Regions from separate parts of the Homo sapiens genome. Here regions 1 and 3 are each reported to be linked to region 2. Evidence: microRNA targets listed by miRTarBase, many of them from high-throughput screens and not tested one by one. Region 2 holds a microRNA gene; each other region holds the end of a gene's coding sequence.
Evidence for each region. Region 2 holds the annotated microRNA hsa-miR-5703 (AGGAGAAGUCGGGAAGGU, at 3,233-3,250, shown strand). A microRNA usually pairs through its seed, bases 2 to 8, with sites in the 3' UTR of a target mRNA and lowers its output. Matches are read on the target gene's strand: a 7mer-m8 pairs with bases 2 to 8, a 7mer-A1 pairs with bases 2 to 7 and ends in A, and an 8mer does both.

Region 1: the mRNA of BACH2 is a reported target of hsa-miR-5703. Seed matches in the 3' UTR shown: 8mer at 4,935-4,942.
Region 3: miRTarBase lists SLF1 as a target of hsa-miR-5703. Seed matches in the 3' UTR shown: 8mer at 1,929-1,936.

The regions. Positions count from the first base shown.
Region 1 is chr6:89,925,926-89,933,032 of GRCh38, forward strand. It overlaps BACH2 (BACH transcriptional regulator 2), which reads right to left. Exons shown (of 9, transcript NM_021813.4): 9 at 603-6,965. The coding sequence ends at 6,483. Among named protein-coding and RNA genes, the nearest start is that of GJA10, 35 kb to the left of the region's middle. RefSeq lists a silencer at 1,885-2,179.
Region 2 is chr2:227,468,930-227,476,053 of GRCh38, forward strand. It overlaps MIR5703 (microRNA 5703), which reads left to right and starts at 3,203; the gene lies at 3,203-3,258. It overlaps AGFG1 (ArfGAP with FG repeats 1), which reads left to right and starts at 3,227. Exons shown (of 13, transcript NM_004504.5): 1 at 3,227-3,659. The coding sequence starts at 3,493. LOC124907994 (a long non-coding RNA gene) reads right to left here and starts at 3,170. Exons shown (of 2, transcript XR_007088114.1): 1 at 2,231-3,170; 2 at 1,859-2,060. RefSeq lists an enhancer at 2,140-3,103 and a silencer at 3,216-3,935.
Region 3 is chr5:94,694,678-94,701,784 of GRCh38, forward strand. It overlaps SLF1 (SMC5/6 complex localization factor 1), which reads left to right. Exons shown (of 21, transcript NM_032290.4): 21 at 154-2,944. The coding sequence ends at 635. Among named protein-coding and RNA genes, the nearest start is that of SLF1, 80 kb to the left of the region's middle.

The DNA of each region.
Region 1 (7,107 bases), not on the chromosome of region 2:
ACAAGTTTGCAATCTAGGAACATCTAGTCTAGGTGTGTCATAGGCTTTCTCATCTAGGTTGGTGTGGCACACCCTGATGTTCTCACAATAGGAAATTGCGTAAGGATGCATTTCTCACAACGTACCCCCTTCACTAACCAATGCATGACTGTATGGATTCCTCAACCACAATTCTAAACATCTTTCCTTGCAACTCACTGCATCTTGGTGTTGGCTTAATGTTCTTTCTCATTTACTTTCATTTAGTTTTTAAAAAATTCAGCCTATTTTGGATATAATTGCAGATTCACATGCAGTTGCAAGAAATGATACCCATCACCCAGTTTTCTCCCGTGGTAACATTCTGCATAGCGATAGCACAATATCAAAACCGAGAAATTGGGTTTAAAGCCTTTTATCTACTCTCACAGGCACTAGGGATTTTTAAAATTCAGAGTTTAGGAATCACATTAATATTATCCAATTTTAAAGATTCCTAATCAGATTAATCAGGTAGCAAGTAAGGGTCCAAACTAGAGGAAGAGAAATGGCCTCTAGGAAAAAAGATTTCCTGAGGTTTCTCACTCTGTAATTTGGAACATAGGGATCAGAGGCAGAGAAAATCAGTTTACAATGCATAATGATATGTCTTTATTTCATCAACAGAAATGGTGTCTAGACAAAATTCAGTTAACACTAGCAATTCAATTGAGTGAAAACTTTTTTTGCACAATAGTGTATTTACAATGAGTAAATGAAGTTTCAATTCATTAGTTCATAGCAATGCTTTTTTCCCCCAAAAGGTAAAAATTCTTAGTTACAGAGAATAAGCATCAACAGCCTTTCATTTTTTACAATAAAAACCACGAGAAAAACCACAATCACTTAGAAAAAAATAAGGACAAGCCTAAGAACTAGTACAATAAAATGATGCATTGAATTAAATTACATTAATCGCATAGAATCTGTGTAAAAAGTATGTAGAAAAACACCTGATGTAACCTGTTACAGTCGTTGACCAGTTATGAGAGGTACAGAGGGTTATACAGGTAGATATGTGTGAAAACTGTCCGTATTGTTCAACCTGGGGAGGAAGAGAAGAGGGGCTGCAGCCCCTTGCATACACTGAGAAGACCCTGTTTTGAATATGGCCTCTGGAGTTTGTAAGGCATATATTAGAGGTGCACTTGCATCAGACTGGTTCTGGAACAAATTGTCAAATTGTCACAGGCTCTCTTGGCCTCACTAGCAAAGGTGGTGCTTGCCTTGAATGGCTCACTGTGTCTAACAAGCACCTGAAGCTCCCAAATGCATATGGAATCTTCCTGATCACTCACTAGAGGTGCCATGTCTTTATGTCAGAGCGTGAAACGGGCATCCCAGGATTTGCACACACAAAATACATTGTTAGGACTTAAGGGGAGGTCATAGTTCTGCCTCCAAACATGTTTTGGTAGAAGACTGAGCATCCATCTGTAGGAAAACCCCTCTTTGTCCAAGTCCCTTCACTCTTTCGCAACATATGCGTCTGATTATTCCCATGGGAGCACTTGGCACTGAATGTGAGTCTACCTGAAATGAATGGTCTTGGTGCACACTTCTGCTTCTAAGAAGGGCCAGTGTTTTATCTGAGGTCAATAAACTGGAATGAGAATGAAAGTCAGAGCTGTTTATCCATTGCTTGACAGCAAAATGCATACACCGTGTCACAACATTAAATCAAAGCTATGAAAGTTGGCCTCTGCAACCAAGTGGGTATTCTTCACAAAATGGCAGCATCGTTTTCATATTACATTTAAAATGCACTGATATTCATTTGATAGAAATATCATCTCCCAGGGTGGAGTGTAGGAAAATACTATAAACTTTTCTTTGCAAGTAATGTTTTTGCACCGTCAGTTGAATAATTTATGCTCAATCTGCCACAATGAGACTTTTCTATGTACAAATGCTATTTGCACACACTATTTGTGTACAGATATGTTCTGTTCTACAGCATCGGTTTTGGACGCTGGGGTCATGAGATGGCTCAGGCAGTACTATAAACATACACTTTCAACACACAATGCCTCGTGCACACAGATTTCCTGTATGAATACCAACTCCACACAGGGCATTGTATTGTGGACTGACTCACCAGAAATTGCACTTCCAACACAGTCTTCAGTTTGGGGAAGAAACACTAACTCATGATACAACGAACAGCTTTATTCTTAGAAAACAAAAACAAAAACAAAAAACACCTTGTTCTTTAGTCTATTTACAGTCATTTGAGGACCAAACTTGATTCTTGCTCCTTCTGGATCTGAGACTCCTCCTAAACTGTAAGCAATAGTGAAGCAGTTTGAAGTCATTTCTAAGACAGCTCCTAGTTTAAATGGGGCATAATGTAGAGAAGTAGGTAGCCAAATAGGGACTTGAGAAAGCTTTGCAGGCAGCTCTTCCTCATTTTGAGAGGATTATGCTACTCCACAGGATGTCAAGCAGCTTCACGGGACAGGAGTTTTTGGTGTCTTAACAGGCTTATCATTTTCAAACCTTTGTCTGTTCCTTCTTTTTCTTCTTCTTTGATGGCAATCATAAAATATTAAAAGAGAAAATGTGGGTTTAGGCCTCTTGACAACAGCATTAAACTTCACACTGTGCACACTTCACTTTAGCCAGTCCTCTCATGAGTCTTGTCGCTGGTCCTGGCTCCTTTTGAAGGAGTAGTGGCAGTTGGCATACTAATCACTAGACTTTTGTTCCCTTCCTTGGAAAAGCAATGTAAGGATTACATCCCGAATTATAGTGCATCTTAAAAGCAGCAAACCTTTAGAAAGACAGTTAATAAATTACTCGCACAACATTCAGTTGCAGACACACAGAGTCAGGTTTTCCACTGCAGCATCATCTCTGATGCCTGAGTCATTGCTGGGAACTCAGAAGATAAATAGCAGGATGGCCTCGTAACTTTGTCGGTTTTTTTTTTTTTAAAGTTTTTCTAACTGTTTTGTTCCAGAATCAGTATGTAATAAAGTTCGATTTTAATCAAGGCACCCCCAGGTAACGCAGAGAAACAAACACATACAGCAAATCACTCACCTGTCCAAAGCCTGACCAACTTGAAAAGAGGTTGCCTGGATACACAAGCAGGACAAAGGCAGATCCAAGGGGAGGACTGGATTTAGGTGGGATGTTCATTAGTCTCAGGGTCACTCACCTCCACTGGCTCTGCCCCAACAACCATTCCTACCCCAGCCATTTGGAGACCCAAGCAGGCATCCTCCTAAACAGCCCGTGGTTGGAGGGTCTCTTATTTTTGTAAGAAAAGAGCCTTAAGAACAACCAAATGTTACTGTACTGTGCAAACACTCTTCCTTGCTGTTCACTCACTTTTCTTTTTCCTAAAAGGCGTGGGGTTGACAGAGGGATCCCAGGGAAAAGAGACAGGCTAGGTTTTAAAATTCCACTTGAGGCCGTTTGGATTCTGGTCCCCAGCAAGTCCTCCCTTTGAATCAACCCAGAAATAATTTTGACAAGCACATAGTTCTGAATAGGAAAAGACACACACACATCACATGAACAACTGCACGAAGCTAGTCACTGTTCATGGTGGATTATGAATGAAATAACTTGTGAGAAATCTCTATGAAATTGGAAGATGGTTTTTAGAGCAGTGTTTTTAACCAGTTCCCATGGCAGAAGTTAGGTTGGGGGAAGAGGAAGAAAAGCAAGGCAGGGGTGGGTGGGAGGAAGGTGAGGTCTGAGTTAGGGTGGAGAGAAATAAAGAGGCCCCGCCCCTGCTAGAAATGGCTGCCAAACAGGTCTGGGCTACTGAACCACAGAAACCTGAGGAAATGGATGGAATGTGGTCAAGACTACCAGTTGCACATGAGTTGTTACCAGGGTAAACCTCATGCCAAGAAGCTGGGTTGGACCTGGTTATGATATGAGCAGAAAGTGTTCTTTTTTTAAAAGAAGAGGAGAGGTCACTTGGAAAGGCAACAATAGAGTTAAAAAGCAAAATACTGTCAGCTGACTCCACTGTAACACACGCCTGCGAAGTATCACGTGATTCACATTGAGTTTATATTCTCACTGTCACCAGTTTTCCACAAAGGCAAACCTCATGGTGAAGCACAGAACTGTCCTAGTAGGCCAAGAAATTCCAACAACCATAACAAAAACCAGCAGCTCCAACACAGAGCTTTATCAAGATCTGTTTCAGACACACACACACACACACACACACACACACACACACACACACACACACACAAACAAGAAAAAACAAAAACCCAGAGGCAGGTTTTAAAAGTGGAACTGTTTAAAAAGAAAAGCCTTTTTTTTTTTTTTTTTTTTTTTTTTATCCTACTGCATGAACTGACAAATTTCTGGCATTCATACATATTTAAACATTTAGTGCTAATATTTGTACAGAAAAAAGTTAATAATACTAAAACATATGTTACTATGATTTCACTTTTAGCCTACATCATATACTAATTTCCCCTTTTACATGCAGCTTTAATATTGTCCAAACAATGGCACAAATAAAGAAACAAAGTCAACCATCTATTCCCCACTGCCCACCACCCCATCCCCACATCAAACCGTTCAGGACTCTCTTCCCCAGCCGGGCTGGAGTGGCCCTCGGGCTGCTCAGTGAGACCCGGACCCAAGGCCACTGGAGCGAGGGAGCTGATTCCTCCTCCTCTGGGGCACACCTTCCTGTAAACGTGGCTGGGGCCAACACGGCCCCAGAGCCAAGGGAAGCTGCTCTCTCTGGGTTGCAAGCCAACCAGTTTTGCAGCAAGAAGAGAAAATTATCATCAGGTGAGGGTAGGGTATGTGTGTGATTCGGGAAGGGGACAGGGAGGGTTCCCGGTGATAGCTTGTCCAAAGCCTCAGAATGAAGTCTGCCTTCAGACAAGACACTGGCAGAAAAACCTCAGAAGAAAACTCCAAGCCTTTGGAGAAGGAAAGGAGAAAGAATGTGTCAGCCTGTGTCAGGGATGGATCGCAGATGCCAGGATGCCCTGCTCTCTCCCAATGGGGTGAAGGCAGGACCTTCGGGGCTGTGATTCAAATCCCCTCAGGCCAGATGTCCTGGGAGGCCAAGCCTGGGCAGGAAAGCCAGTGGCTGGTTGGCCCCGTCCTTCAGGGGAGCAGGTCCTACTGCACAACACTTCCAAGAGCAAGCCGAGGCCTCAGGACGTGTTGAAATGAATGGGACTTACTCCCTGGGTGAAAACTTTCTAACTTGATTTCTAGGAGCCAATGCCTGCTGAGTTCTGGTATAAAATCACGGATTCCTGTTTTTCTGATGTACTTTTGAGTGAGATGTCCAAACTCTCTCCCCACTTAGGAATCTGAACATCCAGCATCAACTCTGAACTCTCTATCTGCGTTTAAACTTTGCTTAGGGAAAGGTGGGGAGGAGGTGAAATATAAAAATATTCAAGCAGATTATTGTCTACACATCCTAGGATGAATTCATTATTTGGCAAGATTGTTTTTCCTACATAATTATCACCTGAGTGCTTTTTAATTAGCTAAAATGTTTTACTTTTTTAACTAAAAGCAAAGAATATACAGTATACTTGAGTTATACCGAAGTTACAACTTCATTTAAGAAAATAGGTTTGACCCAAAACTCAGTGCAAGTGGCAAAGTTGACCATTACTGTACAGTATCTGCAAGGAAAACAAAAACAAAAACAAAAACAAACAAAACCCCCCAAACAAACAAAAAACAAACCTACAATGCTCAAATGACACCACTTGGAGGTGCCAAAACCAAACCAAACGAAAAAGAAATCTGAAATAAAACCTTGGGAAAAAGCTTCCAACACTGAATTTTGTCCATAAATAAGTACGAATTGAAAATTGAACTGTGAAGCAAGAAAAATGACCATGTTAACAGTTACCAAACTAGTTCTAGCATCAGAGACAAAAGAAGAGGAATGTTGGAACCTGTTTCTAAATGAGAAATAAGTTTCCAGTTTTAGGATGAGAAAGTTGAGGCATGCAGGACTTTTGCATATGGATATATATATATATATATATATATTTTATATATATATTATATATAATATGTACAGTCTAGCTATAAAACTTTGATGTGTATAGAAGCTGTCTTCAATGAAAAAAATTGAACATTCAGAAGAAATTCCTGAGATAGGGTTTGTGACATGGGCCACTGAGAAAAAAAATCCGTGGTTGGGGCCTAGAGGTGTTGTAGTCTATCCCTGTGAAGACTGAAATTGAGCCACAGACAGACAGTGTCATCACTGCTGTCTTTCCTTGCCTGGGCAAGGGGTAGCACCATTGTGAAGGTAACTATCACTCCTGCTCGAGAAGAGGAGAGGATACTTCGGAACAGTATTGCTGCTAAGACCGCTGTAGTGTGCACCAAATGTGTTCTCGGTTTCTTCGGGACAGCAGATGAACAGTGCCACAGGCTGACTGAAGAACGCCTGGATGGGAGAGGTGTGCGGACTGGGAGGCAGAGCCGAGTCACTAGGTATAATCTTTCCTGGGCTGTTCGTCAGTTGTACACTTATCAGTCATTTCCTGGCAGAAGTCCACGGTCACTGTTTGGCTCCTGGGTTCAAGAGGAGGTCCTCTCTCTGAGAAGGTTCCCGGGTCAGTGCCTTCTAGTCTCCTCCCAGAGGTACAATTCTCGGAGGTGTTGCTGGGTGCCCAGGGGGGTCCGGGGGGAGCCGCGCCTGGCTCCAAGCAGCAGGGCACGTTTTCCCCCACTGCGCATTGGGAGGCCGCAATGTTCTGCTCAGCACCCAAGGGCGCAGGGTTAATACTGGAGGCCGTGGGCAAGTCCATGGGTCTGAGGACAGGGCAATACCGATGCAGGGCCTGGATCTGCTCGGGGCTCTGGATGTCTCGGCAAACTTCCTGGGAAAGGCAGGAGAAGTTGTCCAACAGTTCCCCCATGCATGCTTTCAGTTGATTCCTCTCTGACAACAGTTTCTCTTTCTCACACACCTGGACAGTAGAGAAAAAAAGAGAAGGGTTGATCAAGCCTGAACTGGAGGACAGAAGGCCTCGTTTCAGGTTTTCCAGCCTTTGTTTTGCATCCTCCATTATAATGTAACTCAAGAATGACTAGGTCAGGCTCTAGAAACTT
Region 2 (7,124 bases):
ACAATGTGAGCACTGGGGATGTAAAATATATTAAATACATTTAAATCCTTGAGTTTGTAATAGCACTTTAAAAATATTGATCGCCTAGCCTGGGCAACATAGCGACAGCTTGTCTCTACAACAAATACAAAAGTTAGCCGGGAGTGGTGGTCCTAGCTTCTTGAGGGGGTGTGCCGAGGCAGGAGGAACACTTGAGCCCAGGAGTTCGAGGCTGTAGTGAGCTATGATTGTACCATTGTACTCCAGCCTGGGTGACTGAGTGAGACCCTGTCTCCAAAATATAAATATAGATATATCTATATATCTCTGTCTATATATATTGATCACCACTGGAAGGTGAAATGAAGCCAATACATTATTTTGAAAATTTGTGAATAAAGGAAAGGAATCAAATATTTATCCTGCCTTTCTGACATGTACTATACCAAATAAAATGGTAGATGAGGGGAAATTTTTTCTTTATAGAAAATTTGAGCTGATAAATGAAGGAATGGTAGAATTAGTTTTATTTATTTATTTATTTTTATTTTTTATTTTTTTGAGACAGAGTCTCATTCTGTCACCCAGGCTGGAGTGCAGTGGTGGGATCTCAGCTCACTGCAACCTCCACCTCCTGGGTTCAAGCAATTCTCCTGCCCCAGCCTCCCGAGTAGCTGGGATTACAGGTGCCTGCCACCATGCTCAGCTAATTTTTGTATTTTTAGTAGAGACGGGGTTTCGCCATGTTGGCCAGGCTGGTCTCGAACTCCTGACCTTAGATGATCCTCCTGCCCCAGCCTCCCAAAGTTGCTGGGATTACAGGCGTGAGTCACCGCACCCAGCCAGAATGGCAGAATTAGAATATCAGTATTTTCTAATCATTAATGAATTAATGAATCTAGACATTAATCATCAATGGTTACCAACATCATGAAAAAGATATCCTCTCCTCAATTATGTCCCTCTTGATGGAAGAACACAATGAAATGAATGCCTGCCCCGCAAAAATACTGAACTGGATACTAGTGAACTAGATCTAACTACCAATTTTTAGGAAATAGAACAGAGGGACATGTTAAATGATACAGATTATGAGAAACTCTACAGAATAAAGTGCCCAATTACTAAAACAAATGAATTATAATTAAAAAAAAAGAGATGGTGGAGAGACCCAAAGAAACCTTATGAGACATATTACCCAGTTGCAAGGAGTGGGTTCAAACAAACTGTAAAAATCTCATTAAAATATTGATAATTGCCAACTTAAACACTAGTGCGATATTTGATGATCTTTAGGAGTTATTAACTTTTTTTTTTTTGAGGCGGAGTCTTGCTCTATTGCCCAGGTTGGAGTGCAGTGGCACAATCTTGGCTCACTGCCACCTCTGCCTCCCAGGTTCAAGTGATTCTCCTGCCTCAGCTTCCCAAGTAGCTGGGACTACAAGTGCATGCCACCATGCCTGGCTAATTTTCATATTTTTAGTAGAGACCCGGTTTCGCCATGTAGGCCAGGCTGGTCCTGAACTCCTGACCTCAGGTAATCCACCTGCCTTGGCCTCCCACAGTGCTGGGATTACAGGTGTGCGCCATCGTGCCCAGCCTATTGTTAACTTTTTAGATATGCTAACGGTATCATGGCTAAGTTTGAAAGAGATAAAGTTTTTATTTTTTAGGGATACAAATGGAACTATGTACCATTTAGATGAATGGTACGAAACCTAGAATTTGCTTTAAAATAATAGGAGAGGGGATGGAGGGTTGAGGTATTTATAAAGCAAGATTAGCCATGGGCTTAATCATTGCTGAAAGTGGTCCATGGGCTCATGGTAGTTTGATATTTTCCATAATAGAAAAGTTTAAAAACATTCATTGGCCAATCTATCTGTCCATTTCTTTTAATATTAAAAACATTAATTATTATTAGTAGTATTATATTAATATGAAGTCTCACTTTGTTGATTCACCCAATCCCTTTCATGAGAGATGTGGAGGTTGGTCTTGGCTGTTAGGAAACGTAGATTCTAATCCATTCAACAGCCCAGTGATTTGAGAACTTCAGCTCTCTGGGTCTCCCTGTACTCCTTTGGAAAACGAGAGACGAAGTTGATTGTTGCAGTGGGGATTTGGGTCCTGCAGTCTGGCTGTCTGGGTTGGAATTGAGCTTCGCCATAGGTACCCTTGGGTAAATTTACTTAATCCCTCAGGGTTTCATCTTCCTGTTTTGTAAAATGTAAATAACAATAACGCTCACCTCGAAGGGTTGTTGTGAAGATTACATGAACGATTTCATGTATTCATTCCGTCAACATTGAACACCTAGTCTCCAGCTCTGCGAGGGGAATGGGGTGGAGTGGCACAGAAAATACGGGGGCCAGGCTGTTTAGCGCCTAAAGGGAGAGTCCAGATCACCCATGGTAAACACGAAATAAGATGCAGTATTTCAAATAGCTAGAACTGAGACGAAAATACAACGCAGCAATTTGATGGAGAGCAACTTCGAGAAAGGTGAGCTGCAACATTAACTCGGCTGATCTGGGACAGTCTGGCGGGGGAGGTGACATCTGAGCCCCACCTGACTTAGAGGATGTCAGCTATGGATGATCCGGGTTTCCACACGCAGCAGTTCTCAAGCCAGGTGACTGCACCGCCCTAAAGTTCCCTCCACTTTTGGCAATGTCTGGGGATTTTTGGTTGCCAGCAATGGGAATTGGGGGGTTTGTTCTTGTATCTAGTGGGTATAGGCTAGGAACGCCGCCCAGTATCCTACAGTGCACAGGACACCCCAAGCCCCCCCAAATTAGCTGGCCCAAAGATAAAGAGAGAAGAGCAAGGGCAAAGGTCCTGCAGGAGTCAGAAAGGAGCTTGCTGTGTTCAGAAAACTCAAAATCCAGTGTGGCTGAGTGAGGACGACGAAGAATGAGGTAGACTGGGCTAGACTATGGAGCACTTTTTACGGCACGGTGAGGAATTTGGAATTATACTCAAAGCAGTGGAAAGCCCTTGAAGAGTTTTAAACAGAAGGGGAAGGTAACCCATGTGAAACGCTTTGCATATATAAGCGCTCAATAAATACTGTCTATTATTAATATTATTATCACCATTGTGTCTACCCTACTTGGCTCCAGACCCGGCCCATGCCTCAGCGAGGCCGCAGTGACTCCTCCTGGCCAGCAGAGGGCGCCAGCGGACACTTGGCTACCGGCCGCCCAGGGCGGGCCTCCTCTTGCCGTCCCCTTCCTCGTCTTTTCCCCTCAGGAGAAGTCGGGAAGGTGGCGGCGGCGGCGGCGGTTGTCCCGGCTGTGCCGGTTGGTGTGGCCCGTCAGCCCGCGTACCACAGCGCCCGGGCCGCGTCGAGCCCAGTACAGCCAAGCCGCTGCGGCCGGGTCCGGCGCGGGCGGCGCGCGCAGACGGAGGGCGGCGGCCGCGGCCAGGGCGGCCCGTGGGACCGCGGGCCCCCGGCGCAGCGCTGCCCGGCTCCCGGCCCTGCCGGCCTCCTCCCTTGGCGCCGCGGCCATGGCGGCCAGCGCGAAGCGGAAGCAGGAGGAGAAGCACCTGAAGATGCTGCGGGACATGACCGGCCTCCCGCACAACCGAAAGTGCTTCGACTGCGACCAGCGCGGCCCCACCTACGTTAACATGACGGTCGGCTCCTTCGTGTGTACCTCCTGCTCCGGCAGCCTGTGAGTGCGGGGCGGCCGGGCGGGTGTCGGGCCCTTCCCGGGAGGTGGGGGAGCGGGCGGCGGGACCGGGACCCTTCCGGGGCTGGGAAAGAGCCGGGTGCCGTGGGAGGCGGTCGGGGGCGGCCGTTGGGCGCCGGCTGGCGGGCGCGGCGTGGGAGGCTGCGGGCTGGATGCGCAGGGCCCGGGCAGCCGGGCTGGGGATGCGTTTTCGGTTTTGCCGGGCGAGGGTTTACGTTCTGGGCAGCCTTCGTGGGTGGGACGTGGGCGGGGTTGGGGTCAGGGAGGGGGCGACCGGGGCGAGCGTCCCTGGTCTCCGTCGAGCCTGCGGCCGCCGCCCTCGCTCTCCAGCTACCCGGGGCGCCGGGCTGTGGGGGGTGGGGGAAGACGCTAGGAGGCCGGGGGGGAGGTCCATGCGGGTCCTTTGTGTGCCCCGCCTCTCAGCGGCCCGGGAGCCGCGGTGCGGAGCGAGGCACCTGCTGGGCGCTCCTGCTGGGGGTCGGGGAGAAGCTGGGGTGGGAGGGAGGGACGCCTGCCTCGCCCGTGCCTTTTTTCTGGGTCGAGAGTACCTACGTAACTGGGAGGAAGCAGGCACTTAGGAATAGTAGCAGGATGAAAGCATCTTGATGGCAGATGTGAATCCCCTGGGAAAAGTTCGAAAGGATTAATTGCGGGAGGGGGAGGCAGAGGAGCAGATTTGAAGCTGTGGGATTTTAGTTTTATGGTCCGAAGAGAGTGTTGAGGAGTTGGGGGAAAGTTTTAATGGCAATAAGGTACCCACTAGGAGCTGTGTGATTCTAAATATGATGGAGTTATCTGTGAGATTTATCTGTATCTCGCTATCAATACCCGAGTGCCCTGGCTGTACACAGAAATGAGGAGAGCTAGCAAGTCACCATGATTTCAGAAAGACACTACCGTCCTGAGTTACTGGGATGATTTGTGTTTGTTGTTCTTTGCTTCATTAAGCTTTATTTTGATAAAGATTTTTATTGCCGTGCAATTTCATTCGGAAAATTTGCAGGTGGTTTTGGAATTGATAAAATGCTTTTATATTATTATCTTGTATTTAAAGTTACTAACAACGTGGCAGTTACTAAGTATTTTTAAAACCTTTGCTTGTAAGATTAATACAAAGCACATAATACTTTATGTGGGAAAATTGATTTCTTAAAACTTAGAAAATGCAGAACATGTCTAGTATGTACTATTTGCTTTTTAAAGTTGGGCAAAGAGGCATTATTAGTATTACATGAGTGTTATTTCTTCAGCAGACATTTTTTTTGGTGCCTATTAGGTTGTGTAAGGCCCTGGGGTGTGCCAGTAAATATAGCAAAGTCTTGTTCTCTTGGTTCTTACAGTCCAGTGGGGATGCAAAAGTAAGAAAAATGTCTTGGGCAAGTACTATGCTGAACATGAAAATTGTTTGATAGGAGAGTGCTCATGGTTACTTTTAGGCTGTGTGGCCAGGGAGACACTCTGAGAAGTTGCCAGTTAATAATATTCTCGAATTACTACAGAATCACAGAGCTAGGTGATATCAAGGAGGTAGCCTGGTTCATGCATTTCATTTACAGAAAAAGGAGTTAAGCTAGAAAGTTGTTACTTACGTTGGACAATATTGGTTCCAAAATGAAGCCAATAGAACAATTGTAATTGTATTTGATTTTTATTACATGGTTAAGATGTATGTCCTGCTTTTACTAAACACAGGTCCTTTAATCCATGTAAAGTATTTGATTTGGAAAAAATACATATATTTACACTTCCGGATTTCTGACATTTCTGTGTAGTCCCTGTAAGTACAGCAGCAAATGTGTAATATCAAGGACATATTTTCAAATTTCTTCCTAGATACCACATTTCAGAAACATTGTGCATAAAAGGATATCTCAGTATAATGACAATTATTTATCTTAATGGAACTTAATCTGTGGCAGATAGGACTTCATTTCTCTATTGAGTCATTCCACAAATATTTATTGCCTACTTGTCCTGTGTCATAAGTTACCTGGATCTTAACTGTTCTATGGAGCGTGCCTTGTAAGTATGTAAACGTAGAGTTACAATATATTGTAGTATTTCCTTTCTGTGAATGAGATAGCCAGGAAATATGTAAATGATACAGCTTCTCTGGGAGTTGATGCCTGAGCAAAGACCTTTAACGAGAAATTCTGCTTCATATGTTTGAAAGATCAAGTACTTATGAGCTAGGTACACATGGCTTTGAATCCTGACTCCAAGTATTAGTTATACGGTATTGAGAATGTCACTCAATCTATTTGAGCTTGATTTTTCTCTTATATGAAACAGTGAGGATAAGATTTCCCTTGTAAGTTTTGGATGTAGATTTGTTTTCAGTATTAAAAATAATGTATGTTAAACATCTCACGTAATGCCTGGTATATAGCAAGTGCCCTATAGATGAGAAGCATCAAGGAAGAGGACATGCCATGAGTAAGGGAACAGTACTGTATGTGAAAGATATTAAATAAGAAATATCCTAATAAAAATCTGTCACTTTGGATTTTATGGTTGTAACTCAAAACCGGAATCTAATTGGTTTAAAAATATGAAGGGTTTATTGATTGATTTTAAAGTAAAACTATACAGTGGCTTAATAATATTGCCTAGATTTTCCTCATTCGAGCATGGTTGTCCCCAGCTCCTGGGTATACTGCCTTAATTATGTCGTTGGTCCAATACTTTCAGAAGTTCTGCATTTCCCTCTGATTGGGTTAGCTTAGATCATGCCACAACTGGACACATGTTCTAACCTGACTTCATTGTCACAAGGATCCCCAAATAGAGTTCCCAAATCTGAAATCTAGAATTCTTGGGATGTAGGGAATGAAGACTAGAGTGGCAACCATCAAATGTCTACTGCAGAACGTTGGAGGGACAATAGCTTCTGAAGATTTTTTTCTTTGACAAGCAATAGTGCAGGAAAATAATTTAGGAAGAATAATATAACTCTTGGGTTTAATAATTATGTATCTGATGTTTAGATGACATGGTATAATTGAAAGAATATGAATTTTGAAGTCAGATTTTGACAATGCTACTAGCTTCGTGGCTTAGGGCAAGGTGTTATGCTAGGCCACTACATGCAGATTGGCCCAGATCCATCCTTGTAGCCTCAGTTTCTTTATTTATGTTAAGAAGATATCATATAGCTCAGGGTTGTTAAGAGGATTCAATGATACACATCGTTACTGTATTTACTTATTGAGCACATACCGTATTTGAGGATAGGGCTAAGCACTGGAGTTACAAATATTGAAATAAGGCATGCTAGCTGCCGTTCCTTGATTTACCTGGAAAATATGAATACATAGCAAATAGTATCCACTATCATGAATTCTAAATTTTAGGATAGTGACATACCTTCTATCATTTATACTAATACCTTTTTTTAAAATAAATTGAACTAGCATCTTGTTGTTAATGTTACTAGACTTGGAGCTA
Region 3 (7,107 bases), not on the chromosome of region 2:
ATATATATAGTCAGTTAATTGTGTCGACATGAATTAATACAAAATATGATTGCAAAGAAAGCACTGGATGCTTTGGGAAAAAGGAGAAAAGAGCTGTTAAGCTGCCAAAATAGAAATGTTTTACTTGCAACATTTTGCATTTTCTTTTCACAGGCCCAGTGCTTTTACAACAGAGGAATGCTAAGGGAGAATTGCCCTTGGATTATGTGGTTTCACCTCAAATCAAAGAAGAACTGTTTGCTATTACAAAAATAGAAGATACAGTGGAGAACTTTCATGCACAAGCAGAGAAACATTTTCATTACCAGCAACTTGAATTTGGCTCCTTTTTACTTAGTAGGATGTTGCTAAATTTTTGTTCAATTTTTGATTTATCTTCAGAGTTCATTTTAGCTTCCAAAGGGTTAACTCATCTAAATGAACTGCTTATGGCTTGTAAAAGTCATAAAGAAACCACCAGTGTTCATACTGACTGGTTACTGGATCTTTATGCTGGAAATATAAAGACATTGCAGAAACTCCCACACATTCTTAAGGAACTGCCTGAGAATTTGAAAGTGTGTCCTGGGGTACACACTGAGGCCTTGATGATAACATTGGAAATGATGTGTCGGTCAGTCATGGAGTTTTCATGATGATGCTAGAAAGTATGGATTGACTTTCTAAATCTGTTCAGTTTGCATTGGTACTTACTGTGGACTTCATAGCTTACTGACAGATAGTAATTTGATTTATTTATTGACAGACTTTGCAGCCTTGCTAAATTTTAAAAGCATTTTTAAAAAAACTTCTACAAAACTCTAGTATGGGCTTCTGACTTTTTCCAGGGTGTAGAATTTGACTCAAAAGTAAAAATAATTTTGTTTTAGTATATTCTACTTTCATTAATGTTTTTTTGTTCTGAAAGTGATATTATATTGTACATGTAAAATTAATTTAAATATTTTTTCAAATAAAAATGTAATGTCCTGTATTCTAGATGTTCTAGGTCTTAGAATCATGGCAAGCATATTCATACAAATGCGTACCTATAAACTTGTAGCTCCTGACTCTTAGGGATGGATTTTGAGGAAAAAACAAGACTAAACAAAAACATGTAGCTCCCTATTTCTTCTCTCTAGGTTGTTGGACTGAAATATGCATTTTAGCTTTGTGTGTTTCTAAAATAAACATTTCTAAAATTTACAGTAATAATTAATATTCTTTTGGTTTTTAAATGCAGCAAATATGCAGAGTCTGACAGTTCAATTCCTTGATCTGTTTTATTTTAGCAATTCATATACAAAATGTATCTGTCGCTGCCCTATGTAACCCAGTATTCTGTACCTGAAAACATTCTGCTGCATAGGTTTATGAGTTTAATATTAAGATATTGAGTGGCATCTAAGTAATAGATTTGAGATTATTTAAGATCTTAATATATAGTATGAATTTACTGAGTAGTAATGTTTTAATTTGCAGTTTTTCCTTATAGCAGTTTGTAGTAAAACTAAAAGAAAGGGTGTGGATAATAACCACTTTTGAGATTGGAGTTTCTTCACTACTGGGAGTAAGTTACATTATGATACAGGTGGAAAATAAACACTTCCATTTAGCTTTTATGTAATTCAAGTGATGACCTTAGCAGTTAATCTGCTAAAGCAATACACTTCAGTTTTATTTTGGAAATAGATATTTTAACAAGATACAAATGCTCAGTATCATATTACTGGGTTTGTAATCTAAATTGAAAACTGCTATATCAGTATGAAAAAATATTTTAAATAAGTACTTTTTCCACACATACTCAGGAAATACTAGTTTCTATTTAGCCTTCAAATTTGGCATCATACAAATCTCTTTATTATTAATCTGCCAAAGTATCAGACAAAAAATGATATAGTGAAGACTATCTAAGAAGAGTTTAAATGCTTATAGAGAGTAAAGTGCTTCTCCAGATGATGAATAAGAACGTTTTTTATTCCAATGAGTACCTCTTTACTTCACTTGTAAAGGTGTCTGGGATAGTGTTTGCTTGGTAAACTAATATAAACTTGTAAACATAGGCTTTGACATCATACACATTTTCAAATCCTTGTCTAGTTTCTTAATAACTAAATTGCAAGGCAAATTCTTTTCTGAGCTTTGGCTTTCCTACATGTCAAATAGAAATCACACCAGGTATCTTTGTCATGATAGAATTGTTAGCATATCACATCATATGACACTTAATAAATATTATTTCCTTTCTAATTCTTACCTCCTCTTTTGATTATAATGAATCATTTAGACAAAAGGCAATATAGTAATTGTTTAAGTTGGTAGTAATTCTAAGGTAATTAAGGAATCAACATCATGAGTTAGGGTTTTATACTGTTAGTACAAAGTAGTTTTCCAAATTAGATGTTCATAACGTATATTTGTTTAATTGCAATTAGCATTAATATTTCATAATTGACTGCTCTGTCTGCCAACTTCTACAAGCAGTGATGACATGAAGTGTGAAACAGATGTCACTGAGGTCTCTGCCTTTAAGAAGTTTTACACTTCTTCGAAAGTCCAACGTGGCAAACATAGGTTACTGTGTTCTGTGCCCTGGCTAACAATACCAGTATATGAGTATGAATCTAAATGTTCAGGAAAAGGCTTCATTCCCAAAATTACTTCTTATACTTTATTTTAGAAAACATAATAATAATTGCCTTGAATAATTGCCCAAATCTATCTTGGAGGTATAGGAAGAAGAAATTCTCAATAAGTAAAGTATAATTCATAGTCTTAGTCCTAGATTTTCAATGGCAGACTTTTCAAAGTTGCATCTGAAGACAAGGTTGAGAAATGCTATTCTTCACTGTATTTTGCCAGATGTGATATCATAGTTCTATGGAATCATATTTTTTAAATTTCTGTAAGAGACCTTATTACAATGTAAATAAAGCTGGAGAGGAGATTTCTGAGCAGTTAAGATTCAGCTTTTCCCCATGCATTGTTTACTGGCAGTTTCTTAAATCTCTTTGAAGTTAGAGTTTTCTAGGTTGTTAATTTTTAATTTCACTTTGCAGAATAAAATCATCCAAGTATATACATATTCTGTCATTTTATTCATTCCAAGATGACCAGAAAAACATTTATCCTCATAAAAGTCAAATGTGAAATTAATTCCTTTGAATTCAGCATTTCTTGAACACCTACTCTGAACCAGGTGGTGTGCTTGACAAGGGCTAACTACAAAAAAAGAGGAAAGGCCCACAGTCTAGGAAGGTAAATAAGGCTTAAGTATTGTGAATTTTATTGTCTTCTACATCTGCTAAAAAATTAATTTCAGTAATAATTGGTGTTCTGTTTTAGTTTATAAATGTGAATATTCAAGTGTCCAGTACTTTAATCCTTTGATGAGTATTATTTTAGCAATTTTATTTTAGAGTGGATAGGGTGTAGGGTGTGCTTTTGCAGTCTTAGTATTTTTAAGCAAGCACAAATGCATTACACTAAGATACTTTATATAACCTCCAGAAAATATCTGCCATTTTTGTTTATGCTGCTATAGAAAGTTAATTAAATGAATACCTTCACATGAAAAAAATATCCATGGAATGTGCAATCCTTATGCCTTTATACACCTTTCCAGTTAAGCGGTGAACTTGATGAGAGCCTGTCACTGTTGCTCCTTAATCAGTAGGAAGGGGTCATCTTGAGTGACATGAGGCACTCTTTCCCTGAGGCATTTATCACGTAGCTTTCACGCCAATTGCACCTCCTGCTGACGTGGAGCTTGCAAAACTAGGAATGATAATTGTTTTTATGACAAATGTGGATTGAGTTAGAAAGGTCAGTGATAGCGTTATTAGAATTAAGCTCTGCCTGGTGTTGTCAAAACAGGAGACATGGAATTGTTAACTATTCCTTGTAAATCAAATTATGTTATCAGAAAATTCACCTTGTAGGTTAAAATGAACTGTAGTTGGAGAATATACTTTGGTAGTTATTTGTTGTGATATATATTTTGAAATTATTATAGGCTATAAATTAATTAGAAAAGGTTGAAGTGTTGTTTTACTTGGCTCTGAGTATACATTTTCAAGGTAAGGCAAATCCTACTCAAAGAAGACCTTTTCAAAGGAAATAAAACATTTTTAACATTATTGATTATTAGATGTTTAAAAAGTTTGTCCTCTTAAGTACTTATCTTACAGAACATCTAAAATATGTACAAGCTGTTCCTAATACTTTTTATATTTGAATGTATTACTATGTCTTTTTTAGTGTAAGTATATAGTTTTGATTATAAATACACTTGAACTATGTTTTTTAAAAAGCTTGAAATACAATCCTTAGTACTAGATATAAGTGATTTTTTTTTTTAGAATGTTAATACTTTTTGTTTTTCAAGAGATGATCCCTCCCACCCCCTTTTTAAAACAGAAGTATAATGAACTCTGTTCTGGGTTTTTTAACTACTTGCAGAGTTAAAGATCAACAATATTAAGTCAGCAAAGTGACTATTAAACCATATTTCTAACAAAATATGCAGTATTGTTATATATGTAATATATCATATTGCCTTTAACAAATATAGACCCCAAAAGCCCTTATTCAAGTATTTATAAATAGTTATTTCCAATTAGAATTAAAACATATACTTCCAAATTAGTCATTTTTGTATCATGGCCCCAAATCTTTTTAGATGTAGAACCCAGATTTGGTAGATCTAATCCTCTTCCTTGCCAAAGTATCTGAGTTGGATCAAGTGAACGTTAATGTATTATGGATGTTAAACATTAATAGAGAATGGCTCACTAGTTTGGGACATACAATTTCATTCTACCAAAGAGTAGAAATTTAAACAAAAAACAAAACAAAAGGTTTAGCACTTCCAAAAAGTCAGGTGCGCTGAACTGAAAATCTGGAATCCAGGTTTGAATTTATACCTATCATACTGTCGTTTATCTTGATAGTAGATGAACTAAAATTACCACTGCTTCTCTATTCTGTCTCAAAGTGAAATAAATAGTAATATTGAAAAATCATTAATCTTAAAGTGTTGACAGATGAAAATAACTTAGTTTGTTGTCAGTGACTTCTCAACCTAAAGGTTAGGTCAACAGTGGTTTATGTCATGACTCTTAATAAATTTTTCTAATGACCAGAATAGTTTGATTTATGATAGTTTTTTTGTTTTTGTTTAAAGGAATATTTATCTTTGTTATCTGGCTTCATCCTAAAGATGCATTTTTCTACTTTGCATTCATTCCTTTTTATATTAGAGATAAAATTACCGAGCAATAAGTAAAATCTGGTAAAATTAAAATATGTGTTTTAAGGAATTTTCCAGGAAAACTTAAAAGCAGAATTGTAAAGGTGAAAACTGGACAAGGGGATGAGGGGAAAAATGGTTAAGAATCATTCTGCTTAAAGGAATCCAAAGGGTAAAGATTTCTAGGTACTGTTTATTATATTGATGGAACTTAATGAAGGTATAAAATCAGACAAGCATGTAGACTAATCTCAGAAATAAACTGGGTCTTTGAAATTTTTGAATAATATTCGATAAACTAAACCAAAGGTCCAGATAATTGTTTTATAGAAGGTTCTTTTGGTCGAAATTCAATTTAATCAAAAATAAAGAATAATAAAATTCCAGTTCTAATGGTATCAGAAACAGGCTAGATTTTTTTTCACTGTTTTTTAAAAAACAATTGACACATAATAATTGTACATGTTTATTAGGGTACAGTGTGATGCTTCAATACATGTGTACATTGTATAATGATAAAATCATGGTGGTTAACATGTCATTTATCTTAAACCTTTCCAATTTCTTTGTGGTGATAACGTTCAAGACCCACTTTTCTAGCTATCTTGAAATATAATACATTGTTATTATCTGTAGTCGCCCCACTATGTAATAGAACATCAGCACTTACTCTTCTTAGTTCATCTAACTAACTTTGTAGCCCTTCAGACCATCCTCTCCCCATCTTTGCCTTCCCTCCCTTTCCCTTCCCAGCCTCTGGTAACCACCATTCTACTGTCTACTTCTATGAGATCACCTCTCTTAGCTTCCACATGTAAGTGAGATCATGTGGTATTTGTCTTCCTGTGAGAAAAAGGTTGTTTCGAATAGTAATACTCAGTCCTTTCTCACAGGCAAATCTTGACTCATTTCTTATTTTCCTGTCATTTCAGTTCTTTTACACTCCCAAAAATACTGTTAAGTTCCTACATGTTACTGGAGGAAATGGACTCAGAGAGTTGAAAGCTACTTATTAAAAGTGGTTGGACCTTTTACCTAAATATCATTTTTTACTAATATTAATATTTTAAAATTGAAACTAAATGTTATTAAAAAGGATCTTCTCAGCCAGACATGGTAGCACATGCCTATAGTCCCAGCTATTTGAGAGGCTGAGGCAGAATGATCACTTGAGCCCAGGAGTTCAAGGCCAACCTGAGCAACATAGCAAGACTCTTTTAAAAAAATAATAACATAAATATATCATCTAAATTACATAAGGAAAAAGATTGTAAGTAAAAAATTGCTTATAGTGATTGTCTTTATGTGAAAAAATTTTGGATCTTTTTCACCTCTCCAGGTTTCTTTGTAATGATTTGTATTTGTTTATAATACCAGTATCCAATTTATTTTGAAAGTAATGCTCCTGATTTAAGTAAGAATCAGTCCTTGAAATTTTTCTAAAGTTGCCTTATTTAAACTGGCACCTACTGGATTTTTAAAAGGTAAATTACAGTTTTAATATACTATTTAAAGTTGGATATAATTAAAAGTATAATTAGTATTATCTAACACAGATCTCAAAAAATACACTATACATGTGCTCCTTTTTTCAAAGTGAATCTGACCACTTTACTGATATGGTTCTCTACTCTTTAAGACACTTCAAAATGGAGCCCCAAGTATGCTGAAGTGGGAACTGGGGGGACTTTACTCTTTTGTAGTACTCTTAAATTGCTAAAGATTAAACTTGCTCATGTGGATACTATGTGGAGTCATAACATATCTTTACTTTGTGATTTTAGTATTTATGGGACCTGAAGAATTACTTGTTCTCTAGTGAGATTTTTCAGATACGACACAGAAAAGCAGGGAGAAACTGGTAAGATTAAATG